Linked DNA regions of Homo sapiens: region 1 is linked to region 2. Evidence: fine-mapped expression QTL. A gene starts in region 2. The other region holds a variant in brackets. All regions are shown on one strand. Distances are from middle to middle.

The links. PIP is the estimated chance that this variant, and not a neighbour inherited with it, causes the effect.
Region 1: its variant is fine-mapped to the expression of FAM30A in whole blood (INTERVAL, PIP 0.95).

What each region holds. Positions count from the first base shown.
Region 1 is chr14:105,924,250-105,929,456 of GRCh38, forward strand. It overlaps FAM30A (family with sequence similarity 30 member A), which reads left to right. Exons shown (of 6, transcript NR_026800.2): 6 at 87-5,207. It also overlaps IGH. Among named protein-coding and RNA genes, the nearest start is that of FAM30A, 8.9 kb to the left of the region's middle. The variant C/A (reference allele first, on the strand shown) is at 2,466.
Region 2 is chr14:105,915,043-105,920,249 of GRCh38, forward strand. It overlaps FAM30A (family with sequence similarity 30 member A), which reads left to right and starts at 2,937. Exons shown (of 6, transcript NR_026800.2): 1 at 2,937-3,775. It also overlaps IGH, IGHD2-2 and IGHD1-1.

The DNA.
Region 1 (5,207 bases), 9.2 kb after region 2:
AAAGAAAAATGCCAACTTGCCGTCATCTCTGCTGTCACTATTTTGTGTTCAACAATTGCCTTCTCTATCTGCTGTATCTTTTTCAGCACAGAAGCTGTAATGTTATTAAACAAAGCAATGTATCCAGATCACTCAGAATCTATGCCTGTCACGGGGAGCAGGAGAAGAGGGTGAATGAAGAGCCACAGCATGGCAGGGGAGCCACTGCAAGGATGCTGAAACTCGTGTGAACAGAGTTGCTGTAGGCAGGCTGCTATGGAACCTTTTGGGGAAGCACTGCCTCTTAGGGATGGCAGTGAAAATGGGAGAAGAGGGTGGCATTGCCTCCAGATGGAAGATGTAGTGCTTTGCCTTGCTCCTTGGTGCTTGGAGAGGGAAAGGGATGCTGCTGTAAAGTTCCTGGCTGGACTTTGGCTTGATAAAGCACGGGCACCTTTGGGAGTATGAGGGTGGGTGGGTGTGCACATCTTCCATGAGGAGCTGTTAGTATTGGGGCAGACGTTTCAAGTATGGCAGACAAAGGATGTTCTGCGTGGGGAAATGTGGTGACACCCATTTCACAAGGACAGCTCACATAGATTGAGTGCTCAGGAAGGACCAGCACCATACCCAGTGCCTGATGTGTATCATCTCAATTAGTCCTTGCCTCAGATGCAAAAGGAAACCATCGCCATCATCATCACCACCATCATCATCTTCCTCCTGTGCAGATGGAAAGGCTGAGGCATAGAGAGGTGACGGAGTCTGCCCAGGACTGCAAGCCTGCTGGTGGCAGAGCCAGGTTCCAATGGAATGAAGGCTGTCATCCTCAGATGGCAGGGTAGGCAGGTGGCTAGAGCTCACTTGGGAGAAGGGGAAAGGACACTGACTTTGGCTAGGGATGGAGCAGAGCTTGGGCTGGCTTTCCATGCACGGGCAGGGGGCGTGGCTCATGGCTACGCTCCAGCCCCGGGTGTGGACATTGAATCTTCCAGGTCTACCCTAGGCTATGGGTCTGGACAGCACTGTGATGGAAAGAAGACACTCTATGTCCTGCATTCTGTGACCAATGATGTGACTGTGGGAATGGCGCTGGCATCTGGCTGCCACTCTGGGACGGGTGGCCAGCTGCCATCAGGCCCCACCCAGGATGGGACCACCATGCGACTTCTTCCCTCGCTCCTCCTGGTCATGTCCAGAGCCCCAGGAGGACCAGCAAAGCCTCTCGAGCCGATGGCAGCTCACGTTCTACCTTGTCAGCTACTCCTCTCCTGGGCAACATTGGCTGCTTGCTGTGGCTCTCCCCGGGGTATGTGACTGCCTCTGTGCTGGGCACCTGGCCTGGGCTTTCCTTCTGGGCCTGGGCAGCTGGGCTCAGCTTGGACCCAGGCAGCAGCCACAGAGGGGCCCATGGAGGTGACAGAGTTGCTTCTATGATGGTGAACGGGCAGCTGTGACACGGAGGAGGCGACCACTCCTCAGTTTCCAAGTGCTGCGGTCAGGGCCGGGGCCAGCAAAGTCCCTCCCATATTCAAAGAGTGGGTTTGGGTTTGTCCCAGGAGGACATAGTCAGGAGCCCATGCTGGCACATGCCTCCTCCAAAGTTCAGCCTGGATCCCCAGCCTCTGCCAACGGCCCCGCTCCTTAGCTAACCCAGCTTGCTCCTGGGTTCCACGGCGGAGTCAGATGTTTCTGGGCAGTTTCACCTTTGTGCCTTAAATGCATGTTGAGGACTTTAAGGAATTGTGGAGAAATAGGGCTGTGGCAAAGGCAAGTGACAACTGGGAACAATGATCCTGCAGAGGCTGCTGAGGCCTGGGCCCCAGGGGCGTGGGTTCATCCTTCTGCCTGGGCTTTGGTGGGAGGGGCAGACTCTGTGGTCTGAGACACAAAAAAACCCAAAACATACGTGTGTACAGACACACAGCAGAGCCACACACACACTTGTGCCCATGCACACACTCACAGGAGGCCCGTGGACTCCGCACAGGGAAGAAACTCCTCCGGTCGACAGTGGACGGCGCTGCAGCAGGGACTCACCCCCAAGCCCTGCCTGCCTCCCATTGCCCACCTGGCCCTGGCTTGATGGGCTTATCTCATGCTGTGGCCGGGGACCTCTTGCTTCCTGCAACCCCTTGCTGGACTGGGGCCTGGGCCTCTCCTGGGCTGTGCCTAGGGTTTGTAACCCAGGGCCTGTGCCGGCGTGCACAGAGCATCTCTCCCTGGGAGGCTCAGGGCTGCCTCCTCGAGCTCTGTGGGCCTGCACTGGCCGGTGAGCTTGTGGTGTGGGTTTTCAGGCTGTATCCTTCTACCTCCTGAGCCCAGGGGTCCCAGGCGCCCTGCAGCTGTCTCCTCGGCCATCCTGTGGGGCCCCGAGGCCTTGCCCTCACTTCAGTGCCTGGGTGCTCAGGCTTTGCCCAGGTGCCAGGAGAAGGTGTGAGCATGAGCCTATTGGACACACCTGGCGACGTATACCAGGTGTCCCA[C/A]CCCTGCCACCATGGGGCCTCCCGATACGGCAACCACCACGGACCTGTGGGGACCAATGAGGAAAGAGAGAGGCAGGTCTGGGCCAGGCTCACAGGGACTCCGGCATAGCAGACCCTGCCCCAGCAGGCCCCCTTGTCCTTCCTGGGTCCTGGTCCTTCATGAGGAACTAGCCCATCCCTGGTGGGGCTCCCACCCCGCTTCTCAGTGGGCTCTATGCTTGCCTCGTCGGAGTCACCCCTCAGGCAGTCCTGGGATCCTCTCCTTTAGACCCACTGTGCCTTCCCGGCCTCCCGGGCTTCTGCTGGGGGCAGAAGAAATGCCTCCCCAGGTCTGTCTCTGGAGGCTCTGAGGGAGATGGGCTTGGGGGCTGTAGGAGGAGGCAGGGATTCCAGGGTGTCAGGAAGGCAGGGGTGCCAGGTCCCACCTAGTGAAGTAATAAACCGTGGGTGGTGATAGTGACCCAGTGCCCTCACTGCCCAGCCCCGCCTGTCCTCAGCCAGCACTGCAGGGATCCCAGGCCCAGACTCTGGAGGCCTTCACTGATCCCAGCCACCCCAGAAAAGCTGCAGCCTGCAGGCACCAGCCGGGCCATATGCCCAGTGCCAGCTAGGGCCCACCGCCCATCCTGCACACGGGGCCGCTGGGCAGGTGCCCCTCACACCCCCAGGATGTCAGTGCTCACCTCGAGCAAAGCGCCCCAGCTCGGCCTTGGGAGGTGGTCGTGTCCAGGGGGATGATGGAGAGCTGTCCAACCAAGAGAGCGGGAGGGAGGGAAGGAGGGAGGGAGAGAGATAGAGAGAGAGAGAGAGAGAGAGAGAGAGGAAGTGTGGGCCCTAAGGCTGCCTTAGTGGAGGTGCGCGTGGCCTGCACCTCACCAAGCCTAGCCACTCTCGCGGCTCTGAGTGGCTCACAGGCTTGTGAGGGCCCCGTCGCTGCCTGCTGGGTCCCCACCAGGGCTCCCTCTAGGAATGCGCCATGGCTGCTATGACAATTTGCACAGCCCAGTGGCTTAAACACCATTTATACCACAGGTCCAGATGAATCCTGCAGGGCCAAGGTCTGGGGGTGCTGGAGGCCATGCTCCCTCCAGGCTTGCGGGGAGAACTTCCCTGCCTCCTCCAGTCTCTCCATCCCTGAGCTCTCGGCTCCTCCTCCGTCTTCAGGGCCAGGGCGTAGCGTCTGCTCTCTCGGCCTCTGCCTCCGCTTCCCACCTCACCTGGCTTCTGTCTATGTCAGTCTCCCTCTGCCAACCTCCTAGAAGGACACTTGTGATTACATTAGGGCTCACCCCTTTAATCCAGGGGAGCCTCTCCACTTCATGATTTTCAGCTAACTTGCTTCTGCAAAGACCCCCTTTCCCTATAAGGGCACACATTCACTGGTCCCGGGGCTAAGGACCTTGCTCCAAGTCCCTCCACCCATGATGCTGTGCCTTCCAGAAACCTGTCCTCTGCAGCTCGGTCTTGACCCCAAGCCTGCTGGTGACCTGAACTTCACAGGGTTATCCCCTTGGACTGTGTGCAGCACGATGCAATTTCTGGGCCTGAATGTCATGCTCCCTGGGGCAGGACCTTGAGCCTGCAGCACACACTAGGCCACCTGCAGTCTCACAGGCCATGCCCTGGGTAGACAGGGAGGTGCTCAACCCCAGCTCGGGTCCTCTAGTCTGCCTGGCTACCATGCTTCTCACTCTCCTGCATCTGCAGACCCTGCGTTGCCATGTGAGGCAGGGGTGGGGTGGGGCTGAGGGCGTGGCTTTGGTCCCTGGCTGTCCGGATGAAGTACCAGAGTGACGCCACAGCCCATCCCGGTGACATGCTCACCCCCAACCCCCGTGTCCGGGACCCCGGTCTTGTGTGGTCCCTGATGTGGAGTCCTCAGTCCTTAAGATACATCCAGAAAGTCCTGGCCATGAATTGGAGGTGCAGAGTCCTGCAGAGCCTCTGGGCTGGGCTGGTGCCCCCAGGAGATGGAGGGCCTGGTGGATGCCCTCCTCCCTCAGAGCTGGGGCAGCTGCCTCCCAGGGGTGGGACTCTGGGCTCAGAGAGAGGCCCTTGAGCTGCAGCTCAGGGGGATGCGAGGCTTCGTGGACTGTGTCCTGGTCCATGTGGTGCACGTGTCTCCACCTCCAAGGAGAGGCTCCTCAGTGTGCACCTCCCCCACATCCGTCCTCTCTGCCGGCCCCGGGCGTCTGAGCAGTCATTCCATGCCAGCACCTCTGCAGCCTGCTGGGCCTCAGGTTCTCTGTGAGGGACCTCCCCGGCCTTCGGCGGAGGTGGAGTAAGCTCCGTCAAGGCAGGTGGCTTCGTCCCTTCCTGTGAGTGACACCAGTGATGAAATGGACCCCTCCACACAGGCATCCTCAGGGCACAGGGCCCTGGGGGCACCTTCCTCCTTTCGTATTTGTTGAGAAAAAAAGTGGCATTGCGCTCACACCAGGATGCTGGAGCAGAGCTGACATGCTCGGGAAAGGGCAGAGGTCACTGGGGGTGGGAAGGTCATCCAGTCCAGACTCAGCACCTCGTGGGCTGGTAAACTGAGGCTCAAAGTGCTGGTGCCAGGCCTGAGGCCTCGCGGTGACCCCTCTCTCTGGTTCCCAGCACCTGCCTGAGACCTGCCCCAGGCACCCATAACCTGGAATTCCCTGTTTCCTTGTCCAGGGCCTGAGGAAATGGCTCCCCAGGTCTGTCTCTGGATGCTCTGAGGCAGATGGGCTTGGGGGCTCTAGGAAGAGGCAGGGA
Region 2 (5,207 bases):
CAGGTGAGGTCCAGGTCAGGTGAGGCCCAGGTCAGGCAAGGCTGAGGTAGATGTATGAGACTTCTGTAATTTTCAGTTGGTGCCAACCCTGCCTGGTGTCCCTGCCCCTCCTCCCAGCCCATGCTCTGTGCCTGCCAGATGGCGGCCCCTGCACAGGTGCTGCTGGCTGTGGAGGAGCTGGGCTCTGCCTCCCTGTGCATGGGCGTCCCTCTCGGGCTCTGGCCTGGGAGTGTGGCTGAGTTGCTTGTCTCCGGAATGTACCAACTGTGCCGTCCTTGGGGGTATATGTCCTCGGGGGGATACGGCTCTGTGCCTGCTCCACATCAGGCCCCAGGAGCTGCCAGCAGGTACCAGCCTGCCCTGCCACACAGTGTGCCTGCAGCCTGTCCGGGGATGCCCAGGGAGGTGAGTGCCACCACATATCAGGCCTTTTCTCTTTAAAGTCATTTCTTTGGGGATACATCATCAATGTCTCATATACTGAATGTATGTCTGTATCATTGTGCAATTGCCTGTGTCATCGTTTATTTATCCAACCTGGGTTAATGTCTTTGCTATTATGAACAGTGCTGGACTGAGAATTTTCTAAACACAGCTGTGTGCATTTTCCTCTTCTTGCAATTTAGAATTTTAACTGCTGTTTTCAAGGTACTGTAATGTATTTGTTCTCTTCTTGTTAGGAGACTTGCCAACCCTGTGTGTCTCAGTTCATACCCTCTTCCTTCCCCAGTAGAAGTAACGACCACTGTGTTTATGTGATCATCCTTTTCTTGATTTTCCTTATAGTTTTCCTAGTGGAAAGTTTATCCCTTAAGAAGATAGTTCATTTTGCCGGCTGTAAATTTTATTTAGAAGAAATCACATTGAAAGTATTTTTTGGACTTTCCTTTGTTACTCCAATTACTCAGCATTGTCATGAACTCAACCACAGAGTCACCTGTAACCCTCACTGTTGTCCTTCTGGCTGTCTGGGTTTGCATTTCATGAACCTGCCATCGTTTATTTGCCTGTTTTCCTTCAGATGGCTGTTTGCTTCATTCTCAGTTTGGGGCTATGACAAACATATGTTCTGCACATCTTTGCCCATGAGGCTCTCAGGGAGGGCTCTGGAGCTGGCATTGCCTGCAGGGCTCTGCTTTGTTGCAGGGAGTTCCTGCCAAGGCTTTTCAGAGTGTCTGTGCCCAGCCTGAAGGTACACACTGTACTTTGCCCTTGCATCAGGCACTTTCCTTGTGCTTGCTTCTGTGTGGCTCCACATTCTGGAGAATTTATTCAGATCTGTGCTGCAAATCCATTTCACTGATTCTCTCTTTAGCTGTGTCTACATCAGCTGTTAAGCATCCCATGATGCAGCATTGTGGGCACAGGGCAAACTCTTGAAAGATGACAGTGTAGGATAGCGGCTGCTTCTCCTTCCCTGTGCCCTTCCCACACTGTCCTCCTGGGCTCACTCCCAGCCATCGATCTTGAACACCAGTTTATGGAACTATCTGCACAGGAAAGCAGAAACAGCAAAAGGCCCTGCTCAGGCTCTGCCCGCATCCCCTCTTGCACACCCGCCAAAGCTCTTTCCTTGGGGCCTGTGCAAGCTTCCCAGCTGCTTCTCATTTTCTGTTTACTCTGCTCACTGGCCAGTGGGGTGATGTCTGGGGGGGAGTCTGGTGCGTTTTGGGCATTGATGGCCACCCCTAGGCCCTACTTCCCAGACGCTCCCCCCAGCCCCTCAGCTCCAGAAGTGGAAGCGTTTACAGCAGGGCTTTGGGAATGGGGCTGTGTCACTGTGGGCATAGCAGCTGGTACTACTACAATATCCTCACAGTGACACGAGCCCCCACAAAATCCTCCTGTCCCCGCGGGAGTCACTGAGTCCCCTCTTGCTGTCTCTGGCTAGTTCTCCTGCTGATACTATGATTTCCAGGGGGTTTTTGTCTGAAACTCAGGGTGTGTTGGAGAGGACTCTGAGCCCAGTGCTGTACAGGGGGCTCCTCCTTTGTCCTGGGGGAGTTGCGTGGACCCTGTTTTTGGTCAAGGGAAGTACTTGCTGGTGAAGGAGACCTCCCCTCCTTTCTTTCTCAGGAGCCCCCTCTGATGCCGTTGCCTGGTGTTTCTCAGGGCTGGTGCTGGGGGCTCAGCAGTGTCTGCCCTGTTCCAGGTGGGAATGTGGGTCTGTTCTGTTTCCACGCGGTGTTCTGGGGCCGCCAGTGAGGGGCTCGGGATGTCAGCGGCTGGTCTCTGTCCCTATGGTCTGGGCTCCGGTTCACTGCTCCCCTGCCCTCCAGGTCGGTCACTGACTCAGTTACTATCCAGCGGGCTCCGTGGCTGTTCAGTGGTGGCTGCAGGTCTCTTCCCAGGAGAGGCCTGCGAGAGGGCTGGGCTGTCTGGGAGCCCTGCATTCTCCCATGATGTTGCTGCCTGGATCCCTCGTCTTTACAGGGAGTGCCGAGCCTCCCTGCAGGTGCGGGCAGTGAGAGACACAGGCGGACGTGCATCAGGGTGCTGGAGGCCGATTTCTTTCAGTGCCTTCTGCCTGTGGAAGGGCTGAGCTCCCTGCTTCTGTGCACAGGAGGCTGCCGTGTAACCGGGCAGTGAGGGCAAGGGCCTGCATGGGGAAGACTTGGGTGAGCCTTTGTCCTGGAAATACCAGGGCTGGGTCCAAGAGGGGAGCAGGGTCAGAGTGTCCAGGAGGAAGGTGAGGGCATGGGCAGTGTGGGGGTGGGAGTGCACGGTCAGTGCCATGGCTCAGGGGCCCCAGGAGAGGAAGAGCTCGAGTTGTGGGCAGGAGGAGGCAGGGGGTAGGCACAGAGGGTAGAAACTGAGGCTCTGGCAGCAGAAAAGGGGAGGGCCTGCATGTGCAGGGTTGGCCTGGGAGGGGTGTCTGGAGGGAGAGACAGGGGTCTGGGTGGAGACCAGGGTGTAGGCTGCAGGGATGGGACCCCAGGGTTGTCTGGATGGGCAGGAAGAGCAGCGGGGGAGAAAGGGCTGGAGGCAGGGTTGGGCCTCCCCAGGGTGTGGGGTGCAGGGAGGGGCTGCACAGGCTGTTCCCCTGAAGGAGGGAGGAGGGAGGGAGCACAGAGGTGCTGGGAGCAAATGGAGAGGGAAGTGGCAGCGGCCCGAGTGCCAGGCGGTCCCGGTTTGGGGTTGATCTTTGTGGAACAGCTCCCTGGCCCGTGTGTAAGTGGTCGGGGGAGGCACGGAGGTCTGGAGCTACAAGCGGTGGCAGGAAGGCAGGTCCCAGTCTTGGGGGTCTGGAGCTTATCTTCTTCCTGTGAACTGAGTGTGGGCAGCACCTATGGGCGGTGCCCTGGACCTGTGGTCTGGTGGAGTCCAGGCCTCCCAGGGACAGCAGGGCAGCCAGGGCTAGAGGAGCCTGAGGGTCCAGGTCAGGGTGGCCCTGGGGCCACTGCCTCCACCTTTGACCAGCTCTGCTGTGGGGATCTGGGCATGAGACCCCTTCACCCAGGAGGGGAGCCGCGTGAGTGAGACCCTAAGTCCATACCCCATGGGGGGCTCTGACCCTCCTGCATAGGGCCTGGACAGGGGTGGGTGGGGTGTGCGGGGGGCGGTGGGGAGCCCAGACTCTCCCAGACACAGCCTGCTCTGCTCCAGAATGTGGGCTTGGGCACTGCAGGCTGGCTGGGTCTGGGCTGCCTGGTGTGCCTGTGGTGGCTGCATTCCCACAGCCGGGACTGAGGCCTAGTGAGGACCAGGGAGGAGCCTGAAGGGAGCTCCATGGAGGACCTGCCTCGGATGACACCCCTATCTTAAGAAGGTCATGGTGGGTTCCAGCTGGGAGGAAGGGAAGTGGGCCACCTCCTGGGGGTCTTCCACCCCCACCACCTCAGCCTGGGGCCTCTGTGATTCCTCTCTGCACAGACCCCAAAGTCTGTGCTGCCGCAGGGCAGGAAGGAAGGGCCTGTGGCCTGGTCGAGGTTGGGGCCACAGTGGTGTTCCCTAAGCCCGAGTCTGGTCTCATGGCCCGCCCCGCAGCAGGTCCTGAGTGAGGGACAGAGACCGGGGCGGGGTCTTTGGTCCTGGTGGACTCTGGGGTGGATTCCAGTGGGGAGTCATCAGGGTCGGTGTCCCCCAGGGTACTGGGGTGTCTCTGCTCCTGGAGTCGGCTCTGGATGTGGGGTTTATGCCTGTGCTGCCTGGGGTTGATGCTGGGAGGTGCCAGTGACCCCCGTTTCCCTGAGGGACTCTTGTCGGTGGTAGGGTCAGTTCTGGCCAGGAGCACTGGGACCATAGCAGTAGGATGGGGTCCAGCCCCTTCCATGACCCCCTGGAGCCCTGGTCCCCGTCCTCACCATTCAGTGGGGTTCAGTGGGGACTCCACTGTGCTCTGGCTGCTGGGGGTCGTGTGAGCTGAGCAGGACCTAGGTTCGGGGCGGCTGCTCCCCTCTCTGGCGCGGCCTCCAGCAGGGGCCAGGAGAGAGTTTTGGACACAGTTTTTCTCACGGTGGTCGTTCCAGTTGTACCCACCGTGACTCGGGGCTGTTCAGAATCTGCCCCGGCGCCCTGAGCTCTGGGGCCTCCTGGATGGGGGCTGGGCTTGTGGGCGGCATCTCCTTCGGGGGCTCTGGAGGCTGGGGCTCGCTTTAGTTGTGGGGTGAGCACTGGGAGCCCCAGTTAGCGGAACACCCACAGAGACCGGGGCCTGTACACATTCCGCCCCGGTGTGTGGGGTGGGCCCAGGCCCCTCTGGGCAGGTCAGCTTCAACGGGGAGGGTGCTTGGGTCCTGTTAGTTTTCCTCTGGGTTAATAGGATTCATCTCCTGGCCCCAGATCCTCATAGGCTGCCCCTGTCCCTCCAGCAATGCAGGACATGGCAGGTCACCCTGGAGGGAGGCATGTTCTGGCCTGGGCGTCAGGTGTGGCACCTCAGATCCTCCATGCGTGCTGTGGGCTGAGCAGGACAGCAGACGACCCCGGGCCCCCACCCTGTCTATGGACATTTTTTGCTGCAGCAGCTGTGGGAGCTGACAGTGTTCACAGCCACACCAAGGTCATCATTGTAGTCAAGGCTTTCTAAAAGTTTCATTGTGAGGAAGCCTCCTATTAAACGGCGCCTGGGCCCTGCTTCCTGAGGGTTACTGCTGAGTCCCGGATTTCCCGTAGAGGCGACGAGAGGAGAGCAGAGGGAGGAGGAGGGGGATGAGCTGGGCCCTGCAGAAGGGGGTGCTTGGGTTGGGGTCTGTGGAGTGAAGATC